Linked DNA regions of Homo sapiens. The protein of the gene in region 3 purifies or fractionates together with the protein of the main gene of each other region. This does not show direct contact. Each region holds a gene or a part of one and is shown on either strand. Other genes may lie near its edges.

Region 1 (4,844 bases), on a different chromosome or scaffold from region 3:
GAAGCATCCCAAATAAAGTCCAAAATTCAAAATGTTCCACCCAAAATCTGAAACTTTTTGAGGATCGATATGACACTCAAAGGAAATGCTCATTGGAGCATTTCCAATTTCAGATTTTTGGGTTTGGAATGCTCAACTAGTAAATATGCAACTATTCCAAAATCAAAAAAATTGAAATGCTTCTGGTTCCAAGCATTTCTTATAAGGGATACCCAACCTGTACCATCTCCCAAACATGGATCATTTCTACATTCTATTCCCTGAAACATTATGCATCCTTAGAACTAATGTATAGTCACCATTTTCTTTCAGATTTATCTTAAAGCTTCTTTCAGTAAGTTCCTTTATATATTGTTATCAGCATCCACATTTTTATTTATTGCCAATAATTCACTAATTTAATGTCCTTTTATTAAGTACCTACTATATGCTAGATTCTGGAGACAGAAAAATGAGACAGAGATCTTACTTTACTTTGAGAGCAAAGCAATATGTAAAAATTTAGATTTACATCACAGGTACAATTGAGGCAGCTAAAAGTACTTGAAAGCCCCCATGTGTTGGTTCTTCTGACTTGTAGCCCACCAACTAACTGGAGAAACTCAACTGACAAGTCATTTAACCCTATGAACCTTGGTTTTCTCAATTACAGAATGAGTGGTGGGAGGTTGCTCATTATTGGAAATGATAGCTCCTACAGATTGAGCAGTGACTGCATGCTGAGCACTGCGCTAAGTGCTTTAACAAGCATTAGTTCATTTCATCCTCATAATTATCATACATGTTAACTACTAGTATGTCTGTTATACTAAGGTAGTTGGTCTAAAATCACATCTGGAGTGTGAAGTGGTAGAGCAGACCTTGGATGCCAGGGGTGAACAGTTCTAGTATATAGCTTCTTATTTATGCCTAGTGTTCCATTATTGGAACACTAAGCTTGTGGTAGTTATTTATATCTCACTGATCAAGGTTATTGCCAAGGTCTGATTTTTCACAAAAAAAAAATTTGCAACCTCTGGCATAAATGGGTTAATTACTAGCACATTCCTCTGAAAATCCGTGGAATTTCATTCTTTTTATTTCCCTTGTGAGGCATGGCAGAGGAGGTCCTATTTTCTGATTCTAAGTGATCTCCCCTCTCTGGTTTATACAGTGATTTGCCATAGGCACCTATAGAAAGCTCCCCTTATTCATTTTCCATTTCATTGTACAGATATGTTTGAAATTATATGGAAATTTATCAGTTATACAAAGACATAATGGGGGAAGCAAAAGTAGACACTATCCCTTCTTTGATGGAATGATTGCATTGAAAAATGACTTCTTACATTTGAGAAAAGCAAGAAAATGCTTGAGGACCGATTTTGCTTGTTCTCTAGCTGCCCTGGGGCACATCTGCACTCCTTAATTCATCTGTGAACCGTATAAGGGTAGATCCTCGCTTTTGAAATTTCTCTTGCCCCTATGCAACAAACAGATAAGTACTTTAATGGACAGGTATTTTTAACATGTCATTTAAAAGATAAAATCAATGGCATTCACTGGCTTTCACATGAAAAACAATTCTAACACTAGCCAGTTTTAACACATTTTCTGTCCAGCCTTCACACGTAATTCTTCCTTCTAATATTTTATTAACAGATTTACAAGGGTCCCGACTCTTCCTTCCGGTATTCCAGCCTTCAGCTGAACTGTGAATATCGCTTCCGTGTATGTGCCATTCGCCAGTGCCAAGACTCTCTGGGACACCAGGACCTCGTAGGTCCCTACAGCACCACAGTGCTCTTCATCTCTCAGAGGACTGAACCACCAGCCAGCACCAACAGAGACACTGTGGAAAGCACAAGGACCCGACGGGCACTGAGTGACGAGCAGTGTGCTGCCGTCATCCTTGTGCTGTTTGCTTTCTTTTCCATTTTGATTGCCTTTATCATTCAGTACTTTGTAATCAAGTGAAAATATAACTTTATTTTTTAACTCTATTACATTTTATTTTGTCATGTACTAAAATTATTTCTGTATTGCTTTTATAAAAAACAGTGGCATTTAGCACTGGCATTGAGACTATAGCACATCATTTTTGCCATTTTCAGTGCTTATATTGTTAGGTAGAGGCTGGCACTTTATTAGAATGCAAGCCACAAAAATATCAATTTTGTTTTTTTTGTTAGGGTGGGTCTTCTTTTTTTCTTTCCCTCTCTCTTTTTTTAACAAATGCCTTCTTATAGAAAAACTTTCTAAGAGGCAACAATTTAGAATGGATATTTTGACGAATCGGCATGAGTGTAACAGTGATAACCTGATCTGTTTGTTTTAAAGATTATTACCAAGTGAAAAATTCAGAATGAATAGAATTTACACTAACATGCTATATAAAATGTTAAAGTCTGATGCTGTGAAAGCAATCTAGTGCTATATTTCTACCTCCTCATTTGTCTTAATTATTTGGTAAGTGGGATTATGATGAGTAACTGGAGGGGCTTAGAAACAAAAACTGGATGAAAGAGTATGCATGAAGAAAAGCTTCTTTGATAAATGTGGAGTTCTTCATTATAAATATATATTCATGAATTCACAGATAAGTACTTAAAGAACAGACAGTTTACTTGGCCTAAAAATATTTTGATGTTTACTCAAAAAGTACCTCTTCAGGTCTTGAGAACATGGAAAAGAATTGAGTGCTTTTAAATACTTTTTAGAAAGTAATCATAAAAGTAAATTGAATTTCAAACCTATTTGGCTTCTGTTTTGTGAACCTTTGAACTATATGTATGTGTATAAGGGTATACACATACATATATGGCATATAACAAGTGTACACATATACACATAACAAGTGTAGAAGTATATATTACATACATACACTCACTCTGTCTGGTATAGGCTAATTTTGAAGAACTCCCATAAGTTTCTGCTGCTTCTCCCATAACTGCTGCCACCACCATCAGAATTCATAATCAAACCTAACCTTTTTGTTTGGGGCACCAAATCTGAAGACAAAATTAATTTGCACCAGTAAACTTCAAGCTGCTTTCTTTCTTGAAAACTAAACGTTTAACGTATAATGTCTGTTTGGATACTGTTCCAAATTGTTGATTGCATGTGGTTAATGTTGCATTAGAGCACTTTGCAATTGCATAATTCATTAATGTTTTGTGAGCTTGCATTTGTGAGTTATTGGATGATCAGACTGAATTTTGTCAAGTATCACATTGTACATCTTGCCTAGATGTCGATGACTGCAAGTAATAATACAGTTTATAATGAAACTATCTACAATTCTTGTTTTAGCACATCTGTTATCCGTAAAACACCTGTAACTAGCTTTTTTAATTTATTATTTGAATTTTAGGATAGCGAATCACTAATTTTTAGTTGCTGAGGTTGGCATTTTAGTGATTATTAAGCACTTCTGTCAGTCTTTGAAAAAAGAACGTATTTTTTGTGCTTTGAAGATCTCTGAAGAATTTCTTTTATAATAGAATGGGCATGTATTGTAACAGTTTTATGTCAAATGATCTGTGCTGTAGAAAAACATTAACCCTTGTTCAAAAAAGAAATGGATAAACTTGGCCTTTCTAAGTGGTAAGAATGACCTGTCACTATAATATACTGTATGTTTACATTTTATTTAAATTTAATCTCTTATGTATAGGGTGATAACCTTCCCCAGAAACAACAGTGATTGCGATTGTTTTCTAGAAACTTCTTTAAAGTGCCACATTTGGCAGTACAAATGAGTCTGAGTGTAATAGCCCAGAGATTTATATATAGTTGAATGTCTAAAATGGTAAAATGTGCCACTGTGTCAAGTTACAGTGGCTTATGTTTTTCATAGTAATTCAAATGAACTTCCTATTTTTGATAGTAAATGTCATTTAATAGTATACTTGCCATTTGAGCCTCACTGCAAAATTAGTGCAGAGGAGAAAACAATTTTTAATGTAATCTTGATTTTACCTCATATACTGTACATTCCAAAAACTCTAAACTTTTTAAAGATTATAGATACACTACCAAACATATCACCTTAAAATTGTATAAGGCTGAATGAACTTCATACAAATGAAAAAAATCTCATAAAAATACATAAACTATGTAGCAAAAGTATCTGTAAAATCCATGGAAAATAAAAGTTGTATCATTCTTTTTGAGATACGTTTATTGTATTCATATATATTCATTATTTGCTACCTGTTTAAGAAAGTGAAATGTTATGGTCTCCCCTCTTCCAATGAGCTTAAAACATTTTTCCCAACAGTATATAAATCTTCAACATGAGAGGATGTATATTTATTATATAAAGCCCAGTAAAGAATAAAATTAGAAGTTTTATCCTAGTGACTTGATTTTGTGCAACTCATGAAATATCTTACTTCCTTTCCACATATAAAGAATACAGTGAGTCTAAGGTAAACTTCCCAGTGGGAAGAAAATCCCTAACCTCTCCTTGCCTTTCCCACATCCCTATTTTCTAGTACCTTCTTTCGCCCACCACCAGAGGCCCAGAACCTTCCTGGTAGTGGCACTGCTGGGTCTGCCTTCCACCAGAAAATCCAACATTCTCTCACTCATCCCCCATTAAAATTTCCATCCCAAGAACTTCCTCCTGGGGATGGACACTCAGTGCCTTTTTTTTTTTCTTTTTTTAATGGGTAAGCTAGTAAATTTTATGTTATAAATATTTTACCACCATAAAAAAATCATTGAAAAATTCACTGAAGAAGCCAATATGGAAAGAGGAGAACTCAATGTTTAAAATAAAGCCAACTTTTTTTTTTTATTCAAGAGGTAAGTACATAGCTTCAAGCTCAAGGTCTAGGTTGAGGACAATCATGAGTCCT
Region 2 (4,844 bases), on a different chromosome or scaffold from region 3:
CACAGCATGAGGATCACTTGAGGCCAGGGGTTCAACACCAGCCTGGGCAACATAGTGAGACCTCATCTCTACCAAAAACAAAAGAAAATACACCAATTGTGTATTGGTAAAGAACAAGAAAATCCATGTTGTTTTAGTTTAGTTAGAAAGGAAAAGGCTGTCAAGATGTTATATAAAGATAATACTGAGGGGGGTTGTGTTAGGATAATTAAAACCCAATTCATATCATGGACGCTAAGAAGAGTTTTCAATTAACTCTTGGGTTTTCCTTTGCATGTTTTTAATCTTAATGATGTCAAGTTTACAGAGGAAAATAAAGAATTGTAACGCACACTCATGTCCCCATGTAACCATGCAGGGCGCTGGGGCTAAGGAAGGTCAGGAATCATGTCTCATTTGTTTTCTACCTTTCTCTTTTCTACTTTTCTATTTCTTTTTCTTTTTTTTTTTTTTTTTTTTGAAACTGAGTCTCGCTCTGTCACCAGGCTGGAGTGCAGTGGCACGATCTTGGCTCACTGAAACCTCCAACTCCCTGTCTCAAGCGATTCTCCTGCCTCAGCCTCCCAAGTAGCTGGGATTACAGGCACATGTCACCACGCCCAGCTCATTTTTGTATTTTTAGTAGAGACAGGGTTTCACCATGTTGGTCAGGATGGTCTCGATCTCCTAACCTTATCATCCGCCCGCCTCGGCCTCCTTAAGTGCTGGTATTACAGGCGTGAGCCACCATGCCCGGCCTTCTCTTGCTCTTAATACAGATTTCTATACACATTAGCAGTTCAATAAATGTTCAACAACTGCAAAAAAATAAGTGTCTAATCACATTAAATAAGTTCTTAACTGAATTTCTTACCCCCACCCCCACAAAAGACTCTCTTGTGCTAAAGAAGCATAGGTTGGTTTAAATAACAACAGAAAAACAAAAACTAAACTGCTCTGAATGGTACCAGATGAGAGTACTAACAGACGAGTCTTGGCTCATTTCAATTACATGACCCTGCCATATCTATTTTCCTATGACATGAGAACCACACAGCCAGTCCTCTATTTACAGTTATTGCATGAGTAAATCAGTATATATTTACATGGTAACTATTATGAGCAAGCTATTGGGAAAGATAAAGTAGTTTATTTACCTCCCTAATCTCCACCACCCACAGCAACAACATACTATGTGCAAGGCCCTGATTTAAGCAGTTTACTGCAAGGTGTACAATCTCATCGAAAAATCTTGGTGCCAGATGTGTTTCTGAATTTAGAAATGTCCAGACCTTTAGACAGGAAATATACTTTATATACCATATGTTATGTAATACACCATTAGGGTCTATGGTGCAACCCCATAAACATATTAGTAATTCTATAGCAAAACAAAATAAAGATCAACATTAAGTAGAATAAAGACTATAAATACCCTATGTCAGTTTAAGTCAGGTTTTGCCACCACATGAGTTTTGGCATCTAAGTTACCAAATAAAATCTTTTTCAGTTTTCAGAGCTTTAGAAATTTAAAAATTGCAAACAAATTGTGGGCCTAGGCCGGGGGAGGTGGTTCATGCCTGCAATCCCAGCACTTTGGGAGCCCGAGGTGGGTGGATCACCTGAGGTCAAGAGTTTGAAACCAGCCTCGCCAACATGGTGAAACCCTGTCTCCACTAAAAATAAAAAGTTAGGCCGGGAGCAGTGGCTCACGCCTGTAATCCCAACACTTTGGGAGGCCGAGGCAGGTGGATCACGAGGTCAGAAGATCGAGACCATCCTGGCTAACATGGTGAAACCCTGTCTCTACTAAAAATACAAAAAACTAGCCTGGCGTGGTGGCACGCACCTGTAGTCCCAGCTACTCGGGAGGCTGAGGTAGGAGAACCGCTTGAACCCAGGAGGCGGAGGTTGCAGTGAGCCGGGATCATGCCACTGCACTCCAGCCTGAACGATAGAGTGAGAGAGCGAGACTCCGTCTAAAAAAAAGAAAAAGAAAAAGAGAAAAGAAAAAGTGGGCCTAGCTAATTCATGTAATCTTTGCAAGTACCATAAGAGGCAAGTTCTATTACCCCTTTTTTACATATGAGATAACTGAGGTACAGGGAGGTTTACTGACTCACCCAGTGTCTCACAACTATTAAGTCTCCTAGCTGGAATTGAAACCTAGGTGGCCTAGCTCCAGAGCTTGAGCTCTTAACAAGTATGCTCTACAACCTCTCTCAGAAACCACTTCGGAACACCAAACACGTGAAAAGTAAAACAGTATTAAATGATCTAACATCAAAAAATTAATAGGAGAAACATCACAAGACAGTATTTATTCATTATTCAATAACTATTTATAAAGTGCATACCATGTGCTGGGTGCTCAGAATACAACAATGAGCAAACCGGATGAGGTCTAGGTCGCCTTCATGAAGCCAGAGGCAAGTGGGGAGATGGCCAGGCATCAAATAAGCATAATTATGACACAACAGGGCAAGTGTGTGACTGCTGTTCACCTTCAGAGGGGGAGATCTAGTTCAATGGGGAATAGTGTAATAGGACCTGGAATTTGAAATGACAAAAAAGAAAGGCATGGCATCCATTTGACAAGCACCCACTGTGCACGTACTCTATGCCAGGAATAATGCTAAGCACAAAAGTTCCAAACTGGGGAAAATCAGTTTAAACCAATAGAGATTTGTGAAAGGGAATAATAAGGACATATGGGAAAGTAGGCTGGGATCAAATCAAGTTGACCCTGCAGGCACTGATGAAGGTTATTTTGCAGGTTATTCCCCCACAATATTAGGATTTACTCCTATGGAATGTCAATAATCATCTGCATTCCTATTTGGGACCAACTAGACCTCAAAGCTGGATTGCTTTCAAGGAAGGGCTTAGGGCAATAAATTCATTTAAGCCTCAGGAAACACAGTAACCCTAATCTCTCAAGGAATAAAGGTATGGCCATTTGAAAATGTTGGAGAGGCAACAGGTAAAAGAAAATGATAAGCCCTTCTTAAAATTCCAAAGGCCCTTTCTAAAACCTAGGTTATTCCTTTATACAAAATAAAATTTCCAACCTTCCAAAGGAAACATATTTCCATGAGAAAATAAGATATCATTCTTTGAAAAATAAATTCTTAAGTTGAACAATGATCTGATTTTTAATAAAGTTGGTGACAACTTACCTTGTAGCACAAGTCACAATGTGACAGTGGAAAGTAAACTGCCTTTTAACATACTCACCTCAGGGTTCCCATTCCCCCATCCCCTTACCTAAACAGAGTAGAGGAACCGAATTACATGATTATTTAGCATACTGATCATAGAGTTTTTTTTATTCTCAGGTATTAATATAAATGACTGAATGAGTAGACATTCTATTTATCCTCTGCAAAACATTTTTTTTTAAATTTCCCTGGATAATTTTTTTAAGCCAATGACCTTCCCCAGGAAAGACTCTTCAGTGGCTTCCTATTGTTCTGAGAATCAAACCCAAATTCTTTCTCAGGACCTCCAAGTCCTATTTATCGGTTATTGAGCTGCTTCTAGGCTCTGTAACATCTTCTTTAATCCGCCATGCTGGCTTGCTTTCTGCTCTTCAAAAACGCCAAGTCTCTTTTTCCCCCCTCAAGGCCTTGGCTCTTACTCTTCTCTCTGCAAGAATGTTATCTCGGGAATGTTCTCCCAGATCCTGACAAGGTAGGCCTATTCTCTCTTCTCTTTCAGGTCTCTGCTCAATCATCTTCTCTGAAAGGCCTTTTCTGACTTCCCACACTAAAGTAGGCCCTTCCTAGCTATCTGTATCATATTCCCCTACTTATTTTCATTGCTCTTACTACAGTCTATAAGGATCTTCTTCATTTGTTTGCTCGTTTATTGTCTGTATTCTCTGGTAGAATATAAGCACTGTGATACTCCACAAGAGCAAAGATCATGCCTTATAAGGTTTATCATTGTGCCTAACACAGGGCCTTGGCACACAAGTACCCAGTAGATTTTGTAAAATGAATTAGTAAATGAATGAATGATACATAAAAACCTGATTGTTATGAATATCAGTAACTTGAGAAAGCCATTTTTATAATTTTGAGATATTTTCTCTAGGGCTATTCATTTCTCTACAGTCTTTCCACATTTTCTGAAATAATTCCTGGAAATTTGTTGTATTATTTCATAGCAATAAAAATACATCGGTTTCAATCAGTGGATTTAAGAAAAAAATATTTTCAAGAGGTTTTAGTGGTTTATCAAACATCAATAAAAATCAAACAATTTGAAAATTGGTCAGTCTCATTTCACTACTGCAAGTCAAATTACATGAAGAAGCATAATTTGAAATGTACATAAAATGAGAAAGAAGATAATCCAATAAGTAAGTGCAGTTACATTTAGTAATATCAGAAATATCCAGTCTGCTAACCTCTAGGTGTACCAGATGGACTATCAAACACATATTGAGTCATATTGAAGATTCAGAGCAAAATGCTTATGGCTAACTCATCCACCTTTATTCTTTTCCTGGCAAATATAAATAGTCTTACTATGCAATCACATTAGCAGCAATCTTAGCTTAGATTTTGTATCAATAATAAGCATGAAAAGAAAAAAGTAAGAAAATAGTATAAACTCTTTTCCTTGAAAAAGTTGTAAGTTTTTATGTATTTTGAGAATAGTTTGCTAAGAAAATTACAGACTTAGAAAGTGGGCCTATTAGAATAAGTACCCTTTCCCTACTACATTCCATTTTTTAATAAACCTCAAGTAAACTCAGGAATTTACCAAATCAATTGGGAAACTACAAATCATCTGCAAGTTATCTAACTAAATTGATAAGCAATAGGCCTTACTTTTCTTGTGAAAACTACTTTCTT
Region 3 (4,844 bases):
AGTAGGGATTTTCCCTGTCTTTCACTTTGTCAACACCCAGAAGTCCATTTCAAAACAAATTCCCATTCCTTGAAGGTCATTTCTGAAAAACCCCACTCCTGGTACCAATTACTGAAGAAGCCTAAAACCTTTGATTGTAAGAACAATTCTGTACTTGGGTTTCTCTGCAAGGCATATCAGCACATATGTGGCATTCAGAATGTGTTAGCTATCTTGTTGATGGTGTTGGACGCACATAGTGGCAGCAATAGGATTTATTATTCTAATAAAAATTCACATTTGAACTACCATTTATTGGGAAGCGTTGAGGTGTGATAGCATCATAGTAAAGACCATGGGCTCTGAAGCCAGGCTTCCCAGACTTAAATCCTGACTCTACCACCTACCAGCTATGGACTTTGAGCAGGTAACTATGGGTATACAGACCTCAGTTTTCTTTTGTGGAAAACAGGGATAAATATGTTGCCAACCTCATGTAGTGCCTGGCAGGCTTAAATAACCTGATCTCTATAAAGTACTGAGCTATTTGGTATGTAATCACCCCTCAAGATATGTTTGTTATTATCTTCCACATGTGATTTACCTTCTGCATTCCTTCAAACTACTGTAAGAGGGAAGAACTGATTTTTCCTACTTGGAAAATGGGAAATGTAAGGTTCAGAGTGGTCAAGATATGTTCCCAAGGCCACACAGCAAGCGTGATTTAAACCCTGCCCTGCCTAACTGTGTCGTGCAGGGTCCATGCTTCCTTGACCATCTCTGAGCATTTTGGAGGACCTTGGTGCTACCTCACATGTTGTGTTCTATTATAGAGAGGCAGCAAAGTCTAGTGATTAAGAGAATAAAATCTGGAGAGAGACTGCTGGATTCAAATCTCAGAACTGTCATTTATTACTTGTAAAACCTTAAACAAATCACTGAATCTCTCTGTGTCTCAGTTTCCTCATCTTTAAAATGGTCATATAGAACTACTGGGCTGGGCACAGTGGCCACATCTGTAATCACAGCACTTTGGGAGGCCAAGGTGGGAAGATTGCTTGAGGCCAGGAGTTCGAGCCAGCCTGGGCAACATAGCAAGACCTCATCTCTACAGAAAAATTTAAAAGTTAGCCAGGTGTGATAGCACATACCTGTAGTTCCAGCTTCTTGGGAGGCTGAGGTAAGAGGATTGCTTGAGCCCAAGAGTTCGAGGGTGCAGTGAGCTGTGATTATGCCACTGCACTCCAGCCTGAGTAACAGAGATTCCATCTCTTTAAAAAAATACAATACTTAACCTTGTAGAGTTGTAGAACATAAATTAAGTAATACATGTAAAGTGCCTGGCACTTGCAATTGCATGGACAATTGCATGGCAAATATGAAGGGTTAACTCTTTGGGGACAGCAGAGGGAGGATGTACTGTGACCCCATCCTGACCCCTACCTCTGTCCTCGTTCTCTCCAGACATCTCCGTGAGCCTGCTGTCGGTCATCGTGACATTCTGTGGCATTGTCCTTCTGGGTGTCTCTCTCTTCGTGTCCTGGAAGTTGTGCTGGGTGCCCTGGCGGGACAAGGGAGGCTCGGCAGTGGGCGGTGGCCCCCTGCGCAAAGACCTAGGCCCTGGTGTCGGGCTGGCAGGCCTGGTAGGCGGAGGCGGGCACCACCTGGCGGCTGGCCTGGGTGGCCATCCTCTGCTGGGCGGCCCACACCACCATGCCCATGCCGCCCACCATCCACCCTTTGCTGAGCTGCTGGAGCCAGGCAGCCTGGGGGGTTCTGACACCCCTGAGCCCTCCTACTTGGACATGGACTCGTATCCAGAGGCTGCAGCAGCAGCAGTGGCCGCTGGGGTCAAACCGAGCCAAACATCCCCTGAGCTGCCCTCTGAGGGGGGAGCAGGCTCTGGGTTGCTCCTGCTGCCCCCCAGTGGTGGGGGCTTGCCCAGTGCCCAGTCACATCAGCAGGTCACAAGCCTGGCACCCACTACCAGGTGAGAGAGGATACTGGGTTGGGGGTCCACTCTGAACTTCTGCTCCTCCTCTGTGTCTCTTTCCTATCTATAGCTCTTATGAGTTCGGGATTTGGAGGGGAATCGGGGTATTGACTCCTGGATCTTAGGGAAAGAGGAGGCTGGGGCCCTAGACTCCTGGATCTGAGGGAGGTTGGGGCTGTGGGGTCTAGACCCCTTGGACCAGAAGAAGTAGGGGACTGGGGGCCTGAATTCCTGGGTCCAGAGGGAGGAGACTGGGGGCAGGACTTAGGACAGGAAAGTAGAGGAGAATAAGGTTGGATCCCCAAGTCCCCTGTGGCACAAGGCAGTTCACCCCCTTTCACCCTAAGCCAGGATTGGTAGTGGGACCTGGAGTTCCTTCATTCATTATTTCTCAATATACATGTAAATGTATATTGAGCACTGATATAAACTAGGCCTGAGAGGGGTGTTAGGAAAACACCAGACTCTGCCCTCCTGTCACTCACAGCGCAGGGGAGGCGACCCCCAGACTGGCTGTCCTGGTGTAGCCAGGTTGGTGAGACAGGAAAGCGACTCAGGGAACCGCAACTGGGAGAAGGCTGGGAGCTTCCTGGAGGTGGAGATGTCTCAGCTGAGACCTGCAGGCTGAGGGAGAGTTGGGAAGGCAAAGAGGCAGGGCTGTGACCTGGGCATTCCAGGTGAAAGGAGAGGCCCAGGCAAAGACAAGAGGAGAACGAGATCCTAGTGCATTGTGAGGACAGCCCACACCAAGGGGACAGCCAGGGCACCAAGCCTTAGTCACCAAGGCATGAGAATAAGTTTGAAAAACGGAAAACTTCAGGCTGGGCGCAGTGGCTCATGCCTGTAATCCCAGCACTTTGGGAGGCCGAAGTGGGCAGATCACTTGAGGTCAGGAGTTCGAGACCAGCCTGGCCAATATGGTGAAACCCCATCTCTACTAAAAATACAAAAACAAACAAACAAAAATAGCCGGGCATGGTTGTGTGTGTCTGTAATCCCAGCTACTCGGGAGGCTGAGACGGGAGAATCTCTTGAACCTGGGAGCCAAGATTGCACCACTGTACTCCAGCCTGGGCAGCAGAGTGAGACTCCATCTCAAAAAAAAAAAAAAAAAAGAAAGAAAGAAAAAAGAAAAAGAAAACTTCAGAGATGTGACTACAGACACCAGACCACATGGGGCTTTGAGTGCCCGCCTGAGGGTCTGGGACTTTGTCCTGAGGGCACTGAGGAGCCATGGGAGGGCTGTGAGCAGGGGAGGGGCAGGCTCAGCTCTGGGTGTAGAAGGAACCCTCTGGGGCCATATGGGAGTGGGCTGGAGGGAGACACTGGAGGCTGAGAGTCCAGGAGAGGACAAGGCCTGAGCTGTGACCAGGACAGTGGGGATAGAGAGGAGAGACAGCCGGGGAGATTAAGAGAAGGGCAGAAGAGCGTTCAAAGAAGGTCTGCCAGGGGTCCATGGAGAAGCATCCTGGGTCACCAGCTTGAGGTCCAAAAGAGGTTACTGGAAGCTGGTTTATGCACAGGTCTGGGCTGGAGCTAGCTTTGAAATGGGGAGAATGAGGCTGGGTGTGGTGGCTCACACCTGTAATCCCAGCACTTTGGGAGGCCGAGGCGGGCAGATCATCTGAGGTCAGGAGTTTAAGACCAGCCTGACCAACATGGTGAAACCCCATCTCTGCTAAAAATATAAAAATTAGCCGGATATGGTGGTGCATGCCTGTAATCCCAGTTACTCGGGAGGCTGAGGCAGGATAATCACTTGAACCTGGGAGGCAGAGTTTGCAGTGGGCCGAGATCGCGCCTTTGCACTCCAGCCTGGGTGACAAGAGCAAAACTTCGTCTCAAAAGAAAAGGAAAGAAGGAAGGAAGGAAAGAAGGGAGGGAGGGAGGGAGGGAGGGAGAGAAGGAATGCCCCCCAGATACCAATGGGGAATCTGAGGCTCAGAGAGCACAGTGGCTTCCTCAAGCTCACACAGTGAGCAAAGGAGGGGACTTGTGGCCACCTGGCTGGGGGATGGGGGGAAAGGCAGGGAGGAGTCTCCCAGGTCTCTGCATGCAGTCGAAGATCAGAGCCACTGACCTCACCTTGGTCTCCCCCCAACCCCCTACAGGTACCCAGCCCTGCCCCGACCCCTCACCCAGCAGACTCTGACCTCCCAGCCGGACCCCAGCAGTGAGGAGCGGCCACCTGCCCTGCCCTTACCCCTGCCTGGAGGCGAGGAAAAAGCCAAACTCATTGGGCAGATTAAGCCAGAGCTGTACCAGGGGACTGGCCCTGGTGGCCGGCGGAGCGGTGGGGGCCCAGGCTCTGGAGAGGCAGGCACAGGGGCACCCTGTGGCCGTATCAGCTTCGCCCTGCGGTACCTCTATGGCTCGGACCAGCTGGTGGTGAGGATCCTGCAGGCCCTGGACCTCCCTGCCAAGGACTCCAACGGCTTCTCAGACCCCTACGTCAAGATCTACCTGCTGCCTGACCGCAAGAAAAAGTTTCAGACCAAGGTCCGGAGCAGCGGGCTGGACACCGGGTTCCCACAGAGAGGGAGCTAGGGCTCTGGACTCCCGGGTCTGAGGGAGGAGGGGCTGGGGGCCTGGACTCCCGGGTCTGAGGGAGGAGGGGCTGGGGGCCTGGACTCCCGGGTCTGAGGGAGGAGGGGCTGGGGGCCTGGACTCCTGGGTCTGAGGGAGGAGGGGCTGGGGGCTGGACTCCTGGATCCTGTGGAGGAGGGGCTTATGGGCACGGTGTCTGTCTCCTGTCGCCCACCACCACCAGGTGCACAGGAAGACCCTGAACCCCGTCTTCAATGAGACGTTTCAATTCTCGGTGCCCCTGGCCGAGCTGGCCCAACGCAAACTGCACTTCAGCGTCTATGAC

The links.
Region 1: the proteins of SYT3 (region 3) and FNDC3A purify together in Homo sapiens (affinity purification with mass spectrometry; 2 studies listed by BioGRID and IntAct, with this or other methods). This does not show direct contact.
Region 2: the proteins of SYT3 (region 3) and KLHL13 purify together in Homo sapiens (affinity purification with mass spectrometry; one large-scale study listed by BioGRID and IntAct). This does not show direct contact.

What each region holds. Positions count from the first base shown.
Region 1 is NC_000013.11:49,205,440-49,210,283, forward strand, and holds the end of FNDC3A (fibronectin type-III domain-containing protein 3A), read left to right. Parts: intron 1-1,641; coding exon 1,642-1,956; 3' UTR 1,957-4,340; downstream 4,341-4,844. UniProt on the Homo sapiens protein: Mediates spermatid-Sertoli adhesion during spermatogenesis.
Region 2 is NC_000023.11:118,109,939-118,114,782, forward strand, and holds part of KLHL13 (kelch-like protein 13), read right to left. Parts: intron 1-4,844. UniProt on the Homo sapiens protein: Substrate-specific adapter of a BCR (BTB-CUL3-RBX1) E3 ubiquitin-protein ligase complex required for mitotic progression and cytokinesis.
Region 3 is NC_000019.10:50,629,411-50,634,254, reverse strand, and holds part of SYT3 (synaptotagmin-3), read left to right. Parts: intron 1-1,443; coding exon 1,444-1,969; intron 1,970-4,083; coding exon 4,084-4,471; intron 4,472-4,742; coding exon 4,743-4,844. UniProt on the Homo sapiens protein: Ca(2+) sensor involved in Ca(2+)-dependent exocytosis of secretory vesicles through Ca(2+) and phospholipid binding to the C2 domain.